3 linked regions of the Homo sapiens genome follow. The protein of the gene in region 1 interacts with the protein of each later gene in a pairwise test. Each region holds a gene or a part of one and is shown in the gene's direction. Other genes may lie near its edges.

Region 1 (2,788 bases):
TGGTGACATATGCTTGTAATCCCAGCTACTCTGAGGCTGAGGCACGAGAATCTCTTGAACCTGGGATGCGGAGGTTGCAGTGAGCCAAGATCACACCACTGCACTCCAACCTGGGTGACAGAGCGAGGCTCTGCCTCAAAAAAAAAAAAAAAAAAAAAGTGTCCTTAGGGACATAAAAGGGTTGTAGTGTCAGGATGTTATGTGTGGTATGGATCTTTTAAAGGTTGTTTTTCCCAGTCTATCTCTTACCCGAGCTTGAATGTGGCCGTGAGAATTCTTAGCTTTCATGGCCTGTATGAACATATGGAGGACGCAGAGACTGACAGGATTCTTCTGTTGCCCTGGCTGGAGTGCAGTGGTGCAATGTTTGTGTGGGGCAAAACAGCAGAGAATCTGTGGAGCCCTGCCTGCCCCAAGCCTTCCACTTGCTTGTCTCTCAGTTGGCCTCCCAGCAGCTCCTCATCCCTCTCGTACAGAGGACAGGGTGGCTTTCTTACCCATGGCACGTCCTTTTCTCGGATTCCAGGAGGCCTACAAAGGGGTTTTCTCCCATGCGTGCAGACTGCTGTGAACGTCCGCCATGGGATGGTCGCTTGATTTTTTCACACTTGCCTAATCAGTATTCCAGGTGCAGTTCTTAACGGCAACTACCCCGGAAGCCCCTGCAAGCAGGACATTAACAAGGGGGAGCGGACTTCCAGTTAGTAAACGTAGATGCAGATGTTTTAGTGGAAAAAGAAATTAACTCTTGGTCCTTTAGAGCCTAATACACTGGATGTTTGCTCCCTTTTTATAGATTCCCTTTGGTTTTTAGAAAGTTGAGTCCTTTTGGGGACCCACTCACATGACTTTGACAGTATCTTCTCTCCAGGGGAAAGTGTCTGCAGCATCATTTAGGGAGTTCCCTGGCTCGCATGTATGACGTTTGCTGTTTTAATTTCCTGCCTCCCTTTTGCGATTCAGCTTGTCATGTTTCTCTAGGAGAGTGTTTCCTTCATATCTATTGAATCATTCCCTTGGTTTTTGCTTTGTATCTCAAAGAATTTTTGCGGGAGTACTTCTGTGGTAGTAGGGTCTTGTCACATCATGCACTAAAAACAGAATGTGACTCACCCTTTTCTACTGCTGACTGAGTTGTGATGAGGCTTTTTCTTTCTAAGAAGTGTTTAAATTACCACATAGTCCAGGAATCACGGACAGTAACACTAACACTTTCATCTGTGTGGGCCAGGAGTTGGGCATGTAGTTTAATGACGTATAATTTTTGAATTCCAAGCATAGTTTGAAAAAATATGAAAATCTTAGCACCCAGCACATGCCTTTTAATGAAGAAGTTCTCAGCAGCTGGCAGAAATGCATCTGTGTAGAGAGACACAGGCGGAACAGGTGGCAGGGTGGGGCGTCATCTGGAGGCCTGCGTCTGGGCTGAGTGACCTTCGTTCTTAGGCTGCCTGGTGTGGGAAACGTGAAGATGTGCGCATTTCTCCGGCCCCATGCTGGGCACTTGCTGCAGGCCCTTACCCTTGTCGTTTCTAAATATCGAACATAAGAAGACTGTCCACTTCTCTTTTAATGTAAGGATGTTGGTAAACCAAAGCTTTATGGCTTTGGAATGGAATTTTTCTCATTTCCTAAAAATAAATGGTAGAAGTAAAGTATGCTCATCATGAGCTGGTCCCAAGCGAGTGTTTGGTTTAGCCAGAAGGTAAATGGGCAAGCAGCGTGAGCTGACAGCTTGCAAAAGAGGAAATGAAAAAGGCTGTTGGATAACATGTAGTAAGACCTTTTTCATTGTCCACCTGCTTATGCTATTTTTAGTGAAAAGAATATGAAATTGTATATTTACTGTGATAAAATATAAACTTGTGCATGTGCTAGGTGGAGATGTTCACAGAGGGGAAAATGTTGAGGTGTTAACATTGATGACTTCAGAGGAGTGAGATTGCAAGTGATTTGAAGGTGCTGCTTGTATGTTTTTACATCCCTTGCAAATTGTCTACAAAGAGCATGTCTTGATTTATAAAAATCATGAAGGAAAAAAATGCAAGAGCCTGTCCTTGGGAGGAAGAGGAAGGGGTGGGGCCTTGAGGGAGACATAGCCTTCCTGTGCAGAGGCATCTTGGAGCCACTTGCTCCACCGAGCAGGTGCTCCTCCAGCCAGCACTTGCGTCAGACTCTGTGTGACATTGCAAAATATAGGTGCTCTGGCCTGGCCCTGGGCCAGGGTGATGAGGGGGAGATGGGTGCTCCTGTCCACCAAGAGACTCTGATGTGTCCCAGGGGAAGAATCACAGTTTTTTAGAGGTGTGCCCTGCCACTCCCTCAGGGTTAGAGGAGAGTTGCATAGACATGGGGACCTCTTCCCACCATAGTTTCACATGACTGCTTTCCTGGAAGTAGACTGTTGACATTCTCTGTCCCTGCTACTTTCACAAAGTGTGGCAGTATTTTAGTGTGCCCATTAGGGACATTGATGGAGAGTGCACCAAGACCTCTTAGTTAGCAGATAGCATGCTCACGGATGTCACTGTCCTGTAAATGTCTGGAGGTAGACATCCTGAGGGATCTTGGCAGCTTTTTCTGGGAAGTAATTCACGTTTACTCTGCCTTACAAGACCAGGCTTGTGCCGCAGAACGTGGGGGCAGGTCCAGCGTCTGGTATTCTTCCATGGGCCCACTTGACAGGGCCACGATGTGTTTTCAGTTGTTGTGGGGTTTTTTGGTTTTCTGTTTTTGAGACAAGGTCTGACTCTGTTGCCCAGGCTGGAGTGCAGTGGTGCAATTACGG
Region 2 (3,651 bases), on another chromosome or scaffold:
CAGCCTCCCAAAGTGCTGGGATTACAGGCGTAAGCCACCGAGCCTGGCACATGATGGATACTTTTTTTTTTTTTTTTTTAGACAGAGTCTAGCTCTGTCGCCCAGGCTGGAGTGCAGTGGCCCAATCTCGGCTCACTGCAAGCTCCACCTTCTGGGTTCACGCCATTCTCCTGCCTCAGCCTCCCTAGTAGCTGGAACTACAGGCACCCGCCACCATGCCCGGCTAATTTTTTGTGTTTTTAGTAGAGATGGGGTTTCACTGTGTTAGCCAGGATGGTCTCTAGCCAGGATGGTCTCGATCACCTGACCTCGTGATCTGCCCGCCTCAGTCTCCCAAAGTGCTGGGATTACAGGCGTGAGCCACTGCGCCCAGCCCCATGATGGATACTTTTTAAAAGCTAGTGAGGCCTGACTTATTCCCTGTCCCGCCATCAATGAGACTCCTCACAGATGGTGTGGAGGGAAGCCGCCTCCCTTCGGCCTCCCTTTCCTGAGAGAATCTTGGTGGCTCTGCATCCCCAGTGGCCCTGGACACGCTCTCCCTCTGCGGTCTGTCTATCTGTCTGTCTCCCCTGGTTGGTCGGCTGGGCTCACAGTGAGCCCACCTGGACAAACATGCTGGGCCCCTTCCAGCCCCTCAAGAATCTCATCCTCCCCTGAGGAGGGACTGCTGTGCTCAGGGACGAGACAGAGCCGCCGGGGCTGGGGTTCCCTGAAGAGGCCTTGCTGCGGGAGGGATGGGGCCGAGCAGCTGCTTGTCTCTGTCACCTCTTCTCTCTGTCCTGTTCCCCGTTAACCAAGAAGCACGAACCTCACACAGAGCTCACCCATGTCAGGCAGCTTTCTGGCATCTTCCATGTCCTCATGTATTTAATCTTCAAGCACCCCACTGAGGCAGGTGCTGAGAATCTCCCGTTTTACACGTGGGGAAGCTGAGGCACAGGAAAGGAAAGCGATTTGCCCAGGTTCACCTGCAGTCAAGGGCATGGGCACACTTACACCCCAGACAGCCTGGACCCATGCTGGGACGCGAGAAGAGGGCTGGCAGCCCTGTGAGGCAGGCGGGCAGGAGGCAGGCAGGCCTCCTCCCCAGCTGCCCCAGCACCCGTGTGCCCCCAGAGGGGACGGCTCAGAGTCAGGAGGCTGGTGAGCAGGGCCCAGAGGCGCCTCCTGAGGCGCCATTCATCTTGGCCCCCCTGGCTGTCAGGAACCCCGACTTGCTCTTGATGCAGTGTCTGAGCCTGGGAGGGTCTCGCTCCAGAACAGGTGAGTGGGCTTCTCTAGGCCTCCTGTTGGACACTAGGAGGTGATGGTCATGGTTTCCTCTTCTCTCCTCTAGCTCAGTTTGCCCAGCTGGCCCAGCTGAGCCCCCAGGAGCGTCTGAGCCGGGAGACGGCCCTCCAGCAGAAGCAGGTGTCTCTGGAGGCCTGGTTGCAGCGTGAGGCACAGACACTGCAGCAGTACCGCGTGGTGAGTGGGGTCCTGGGCCTCTCCTGGGCGTGGGTGCCATGAAGTCAGTCTCTGGGGACCCGAGGGAGGGCTGGGACCAGCATGAGAGCAGAACCTGGGAGGGCAGGAGGCCTTTTTTCCTGGGGGCCTTGCGAGGCAGAGCAGCTTGGGGAGAGGGAACGGCCTGGGCCCTGCCCTGCCATTTCCCAGCGAGGCCCTGCGGTGTTCTCTGGGAGCCCAGAAGGGGCTGCTCTCCTCCCTTCCCTCAGGAGCTGGCCGAGAAGCACCAGAAGACCCTGCAGCTGCTGCGGAAGCAGCAGACCATCATCCTGGATGACGAGCTGATCCAGTGGAAGCGGCGGCAGCAGCTGGCCGGGAACGGCGGGCCCCCCGAGGGCAGCCTGGACGTGCTACAGTCCTGGTAATGGTGTGGGGCGGCCAGCGGGCAGGGCAGGAGGGGCTGGTGGGGACCCCGGCTGCTTCTGCGTCCTGTGCTGGCTCCTGCAGCAGGCCCCCTCCATCCTGGGACAGCTCTTGTTTCTCCAGGGAGCCTGGTTCCTCAATCAGACTTTGGTCCCCATCCTGTGCACCTCCCCCAGGAAGGGGGCTGCTGTCCTGGGGGTGGGATGGGGCTCGGGTGTGTGGGGTGATGCTTGGGCTGTTTGGGCCTAGTCAGGGTCGCCCCTCCTGTGTACGTCTCTAATTCTGGGAGGCAGGGAGCTCTGCTCTTCCCATGGGTGGGAAGTGTGGCGAAAGCACAGAGCCTTCCTGGGGGAACGGGAGCTGTGTCTTGGGGCCTGGCGTCTGTGAGGAGAAGCCATTGTCCTCCTGTTGGCCTTGGGGCTCTCGTGCAGGTGTGAGAAGTTGGCCGAGATCATCTGGCAGAACCGGCAGCAGATCCGCAGGGCTGAGCACCTCTGCCAGCAGCTGCCCATCCCCGGCCCAGTGGAGGAGATGCTGGCCGAGGTCAACGCCACCATCACGGACATTATCTCAGCCCTGGTGACCAGGTGACTGCTGCCTGTTTGCCATGCCCAGGAGCTTGGGGCAGCTCCTGCCTGCGTGGGGGGAGCTGCAGGTGCCTTCCAGACCAGCAGATCCACTTCCTGCCTCTCATCCCTCCCAACTCCATCTCCAGTTGCTGTGGCTGCTAGGTGCCGCCCTTGCCCAGTTTCTCCTGTGGACACTGCAAGAGATACCCTGGGCCGCAGCCCATGCCAGCTGCTGTGTTATCTCACTCCCCTCTCCATCCTCTCCCTGGACTCTCACAGCTTCCCCGGGAACAGAGGTTGTGCCCGAGCTCATCACCTCCTGAGCCCCATGGGAGGCAGCCCCACCCCCACCACAGAGGGACTGAGAGCCCTTTCCCCTGCGCCAACCCCTCATCGTGTGTCTGTCCCTGTGTCCCATGCAGCACATTCATCATTGAGAAGCAGCCTCCTCAGGTCCTGAAGACCCAGACCAAGTTTGCAGCCACCGTACGCCTGCTGGTGGGCGGGAAGCTGAACGTGCACATGAATCCCCCCCAGGTGAAGGCCACCATCATCAGTGAGCAGCAGGCCAAGTCTCTGCTTAAAAATGAGAACACCCGCAAGTAATTGTGCCTCTCCCTTCCCCTGCCCAAGCTTAGGTGTGGGGGACCTGCACCCCCCGCTTTGTCCTTGCATCCAGCTATGTCTTGTCCCCTAGTTCACCGTGTTGCCCAGGCTGGTCTCGAACTCCTGGACTCATGCAGTCTTCCCACCTCAGCCTCCCAAAGTGCTGAGTTGATAGGCGTGAGCCACCACACCCAGCCGAGTATCCGTTCTTTACCCTGGGGATGGTGTGGCTGCCGGAGAGCTGAGGCTCACTGCCACTGCCCAGCATTGTGAGAGACTATCACACCACTTTCTCCTGAAAGTGTATTGCTTCACACCATTGTAAATTCAAACAATCATGTCAAACCATCATTAAATCTGGGACAGATGGTACACTGCCTTCCTCCTACTCAGATGCCTTCCCTGTCCCTGCAACAAGCTTGGTGCTAGGCTAGATGCCGTGGCTTACCCCTGTAATCCCAGCACTTTGGGAGGCCACGGTCGGAGGATCACTTGAGCCCAAAAGTTTGAGTTGGACAATATAGGGAGACCCTCATCGCTACAAAAAGTTTTAAAATTAGCTGGGCATGGTGGTGCACGCACTTGTAGTCCCAGCTACTCGGGA
Region 3 (3,651 bases), on another chromosome or scaffold:
GGCATGAACCCGGGAGGCGGAGCTTGCAGTGAGCCGAGATCACGCCACTGCACTCCAGCCTGGGGGGCAGAGTGAGACTCTGTCTCAAAAAAAAAATAAAATAAAAGTATCTTTACCCACTTCTCTGTAGTGAATATTGACTAGCATTTTGAAGTAGGAACTAACAAAGTATAAAATTAAGTAGATTTTTTATATTTATGGGTATTGTTCTAGTACAAATTTATGGTGTACACTGTCGGTCTGAGTGTGGGTTTAAAATATATCATTGTGCTTGGCTAATTTGTAGAATGTCTTATTTGAATTGACTTCATTTATTTCAGAGGAATGCATAGATGATCAGATCAAACTGTCGTCATAGCAGTGTTTTCAGCACATACGAGAATCTTAGAGTTTAGGAGCCTTAGAGCTCACCCAGTGCAATTTCCTGCCGGAAGCAGATTCCTTCCTGGTGACCTCACCAACAGGTGCTTGTGCAGCCTTTTCCTGAAAACTTTTTGGGAAAGTGGGGGCTGCTACCTCACTACTTTGATGTGTACCTTTTGTTCAAGAACTTTCTAAAACTTGGAGCTAATCATGGGTTATTTCAGAAGATGTAAGCATTTTAAGTTTTTTATTGAATTCCATCCTTATTTAAAAGGCCTGGTTATGTAATATTTTCTGTTTTTTTTTTTTTTTTTTGTATGGTTTCCCACATTGATTAGGTTGTTTTCTTCATTTTCTTAATAGATTAAAAATACTTTCTTCTCTTTCTATTTGTGTCTTCTTCCATTTAGTATTTATGGGAGGGAGCAAGAAGGGAAAGGATGTCTATTTTTAAAATTGACTACAATCATGACTGTTCTTCTTGTCATTCTGTAGCAGCTGGATTTATTACCATCTCTTATTTAAAGGTCCTTCAGAACACGTTGAAGCAGTTCATTTCAGGTCAATGGCTGGTAAGCAATGTCAGGACCTCTGGGGAAGGAGAAGCTGACGGGATCCCAGAGGAAAGAATTGAGGTTGTTTGCTCCCTTGTAGAAAGCCCACAGATCCCTTCCCAGACTAGAAAAAAAGTGCCAGAGTGTCCTGAAACTTTCCTTCTAAGGCACATACTTCAAAGAGACTGGGGATTCCTTTGTTTTAAATATAGGTGGGGTCTCACAGTGTTGCCCAGGCTGGGCTCAAGCGATCCTGCCACCTGGGCCTCCCAAAGTGATGGGATTACAGGCATGAGCCACCATGCACGGCCATGGAGATTCTAATGTGGTGCCAGCTGCCAGGTAAGAAAGCTGTGAGACAATGTGTTGATTTTCCTTTACTACGTCAGGTTTGAGGACATCATCTAGCATCAACGGGTAACGTCACCCTTTGTTCCATCTTTGGGAAATAATAGTAGTAGCTTGTTACTGTTAGCTGACCCCTACATTAGCATCAATAAAGTAAATCCCTTTAACTTTCCTTTTGGCCTTTCCTTTCTCTCTCTCTGCCTCCCCACCAGCCCCGACTCTCTCCTGTGTGCGTACACATCCACACACACCTCCATGGTATTCCTTCTTTCTCCCACCTAAGGGAAGCTGTGCCCGATCTTGCTGCAGTCCAGGTCACCGTACTGAGATGAGTCAGCCACAGACTCTAAACACTAGCAGCGATTAGCCGTATGTAGCCACCAAGTGCACTGTTTTAGACAGGTTTACACAGCTCTTTGCTGTCCACTCATATCAGCTGTGTAGTAGCCCAAGGCAGCCTGTCAGGCAGAAGAATTACCAACCAAAGTGGATCTATTCATAAGATAAAAGATCCGGAGTCCGTGCCCTCTTAAAAAACTTTTGTCTTCAGACATATGGGTGCGTGTTCATCTCTGGCCAAAACTTTGTTTCCAGTTTCAAAGGGCTGGTTGCGAAGGTGGCCTTGTAACCTTTCTGTTGCCGGCTCTGTTAGTTGCCTGATAAGCAGTAGCTAATTCATCCTCCTCAGAATTTGAGAGTGGCATCTATTAGATTCAGACCACCAAGGTGCCTGCGCGGGCTCTCCTGGTTACGACTGAGTCCCCTTTTCTCATCTGTGGGGTGAACGCTTCTATTTGCAGAAATTTGCTTGCATCTTTTTCCTTTTATTTATTATTACTTTTTAGAGATGCGGCCTTGCTCTGTTGCCCAGGCTGGAGTGCGGTGGACTCTTTTCTTTTGTTGATCTTTGCCATCCTCTGCCTGGCTTAATGAGGTTCTTTCCCTGCGTATTTATGTCCCAGGAGCTCACCTTCCCCCTAGGTTTTTAAGAAGGAAGCAGAAAATGTTACAAAGTATAAGGGATTCTATGAAGTCCATAGATAGGATTTGCTTTGGGAGTAGATGATTTCTTCTTATTTTGGTGTAAACATCAATTTGGATGGCAATTAGAATGTCTTTAGCCTCTTTAAAAAGCCCTTCTGGGGCAAACCTTTGCAAGTCACTCAGCTGGCATGTAATGAGATTTTTATTTGCATGGCTTTTTTTTTCTAAGTCTCTCTAGAAGAACATAAGGACATTCTGAACATGCAAGGAATACAGTTATTCTCACATCAAGGATCAATTTTATTTTGTATCTTCATTTTATGTCATTTTCCTTTATTTTATTCACATTAATCTAGCATTAATTCCCCCCAGAGGGAATGATATTTTTGGTTGCTGCCACCTGTGTTATTAAGTGACAGCTTTTCTTTATCTGCTTTTCTGAATTTCATATTTATATACTTTATTGTAGTTTTTTAAAATCTATTCTAGCTGGGCTAGAATCTTCCAAGTATTAATTCATAATGAACTTCCCTCTTCTGGAATTGTTTAGGAGGGCTAATGTTCCATGTTCCCTTCGTTGCTATAGATATGAAGTTATTTCGATGTTCTTTGAGTGCTTTATTATAGCGATAACTGGTACTGCCTTTGATTAAAGGTGAGCTATATGGAGTTAAGCATTTTTATACTAGTAACTATTTATTGAGAATTTTCAGAATTCTATAGCTACTTGTCTTTAACAGTTATAAGAGGCATGTATTTTTTTTTCCTTCATGGTCTGGAAGTTAGTTTTCTCTTTGTTTGGGTAGATCGGAATGAGTTGTTGAGCTGTGTTGAAAACACACATGAATCAAAAAAGCAGATGTATTGTAGAAATGTGATGTTTTCATGTTTCGGGAATTTGACCGGAAAGCTTTATGTATGGGTTTTATTTTTAACAAAGCAGTAAGGGCTTACTTTTTACCAACTTGTGTGTGTGTAAAGATGTATTTGTTCAAGCTTTAAGAATAAACCTGTCAATGTACAAATGCCTGATATCTGACTTGGACTTGTGGTTTGTTTGTTTGTTTGTTTGTTTGCTTTTCGGGGCGTGGGGGTAGGTATGTTGGATCTTGGAAATAAGTGAGAGTGTTAAAGAAGCACAACAATCTGTATCAGTGAATTTACATCTTAGAAGACTCACATTAACTTATGCTTGAATGAAAACCGTGTGTGGATAACTGAATGCAGCGTTTTCTGAACTGCCCTGAAGGACGGCTTAAAAGGAGAAGGAAGCCACTCGCCCATTTAGTGTTCTGAAAGGTCTTTTCCCCTAGGACCCATTCATGCCTCCCTTCATCAAGCCCCCATCCTTCGAGGGTTCCAGAAAATGAGCCCCGGAGCAGATGATTGAGGGAGGGCACGC

What was found.
Region 2: the proteins of TXNDC11 (region 1) and STAT5A interact in a two-hybrid assay, tested with the Homo sapiens proteins (one large-scale study listed by BioGRID and IntAct).
Region 3: the proteins of TXNDC11 (region 1) and RPS6KA5 interact in a two-hybrid assay, tested with the Homo sapiens proteins (one large-scale study listed by BioGRID and IntAct).

What each region holds. Positions count from the first base shown.
Region 1 is NC_000016.10:11,681,119-11,683,906, reverse strand, and holds part of TXNDC11 (thioredoxin domain-containing protein 11), read left to right. Parts: intron 1-2,788. UniProt on the Homo sapiens protein: May act as a redox regulator involved in DUOX proteins folding. The interaction with DUOX1 and DUOX2 suggest that it belongs to a multiprotein complex constituting the thyroid H(2)O(2) generating system.
Region 2 is NC_000017.11:42,298,412-42,302,062, forward strand, and holds part of STAT5A (signal transducer and activator of transcription 5A), read left to right. Parts: intron 1-1,339; coding exon 1,340-1,470; intron 1,471-1,718; coding exon 1,719-1,870; intron 1,871-2,303; coding exon 2,304-2,459; intron 2,460-2,863; coding exon 2,864-3,043; intron 3,044-3,651. UniProt on the Homo sapiens protein: Carries out a dual function: signal transduction and activation of transcription. Mediates cellular responses to the cytokine KITLG/SCF and other growth factors. Mediates cellular responses to ERBB4.
Region 3 is NC_000014.9:90,847,491-90,851,141, reverse strand, and holds the end of RPS6KA5 (ribosomal protein S6 kinase alpha-5), read left to right. Parts: 3' UTR 1-3,281; downstream 3,282-3,651. UniProt on the Homo sapiens protein: Serine/threonine-protein kinase that is required for the mitogen or stress-induced phosphorylation of the transcription factors CREB1 and ATF1 and for the regulation of the transcription factors RELA, STAT3 and ETV1/ER81, and that contributes to gene activation by histone phosphorylation and functions in the regulation of inflammatory genes.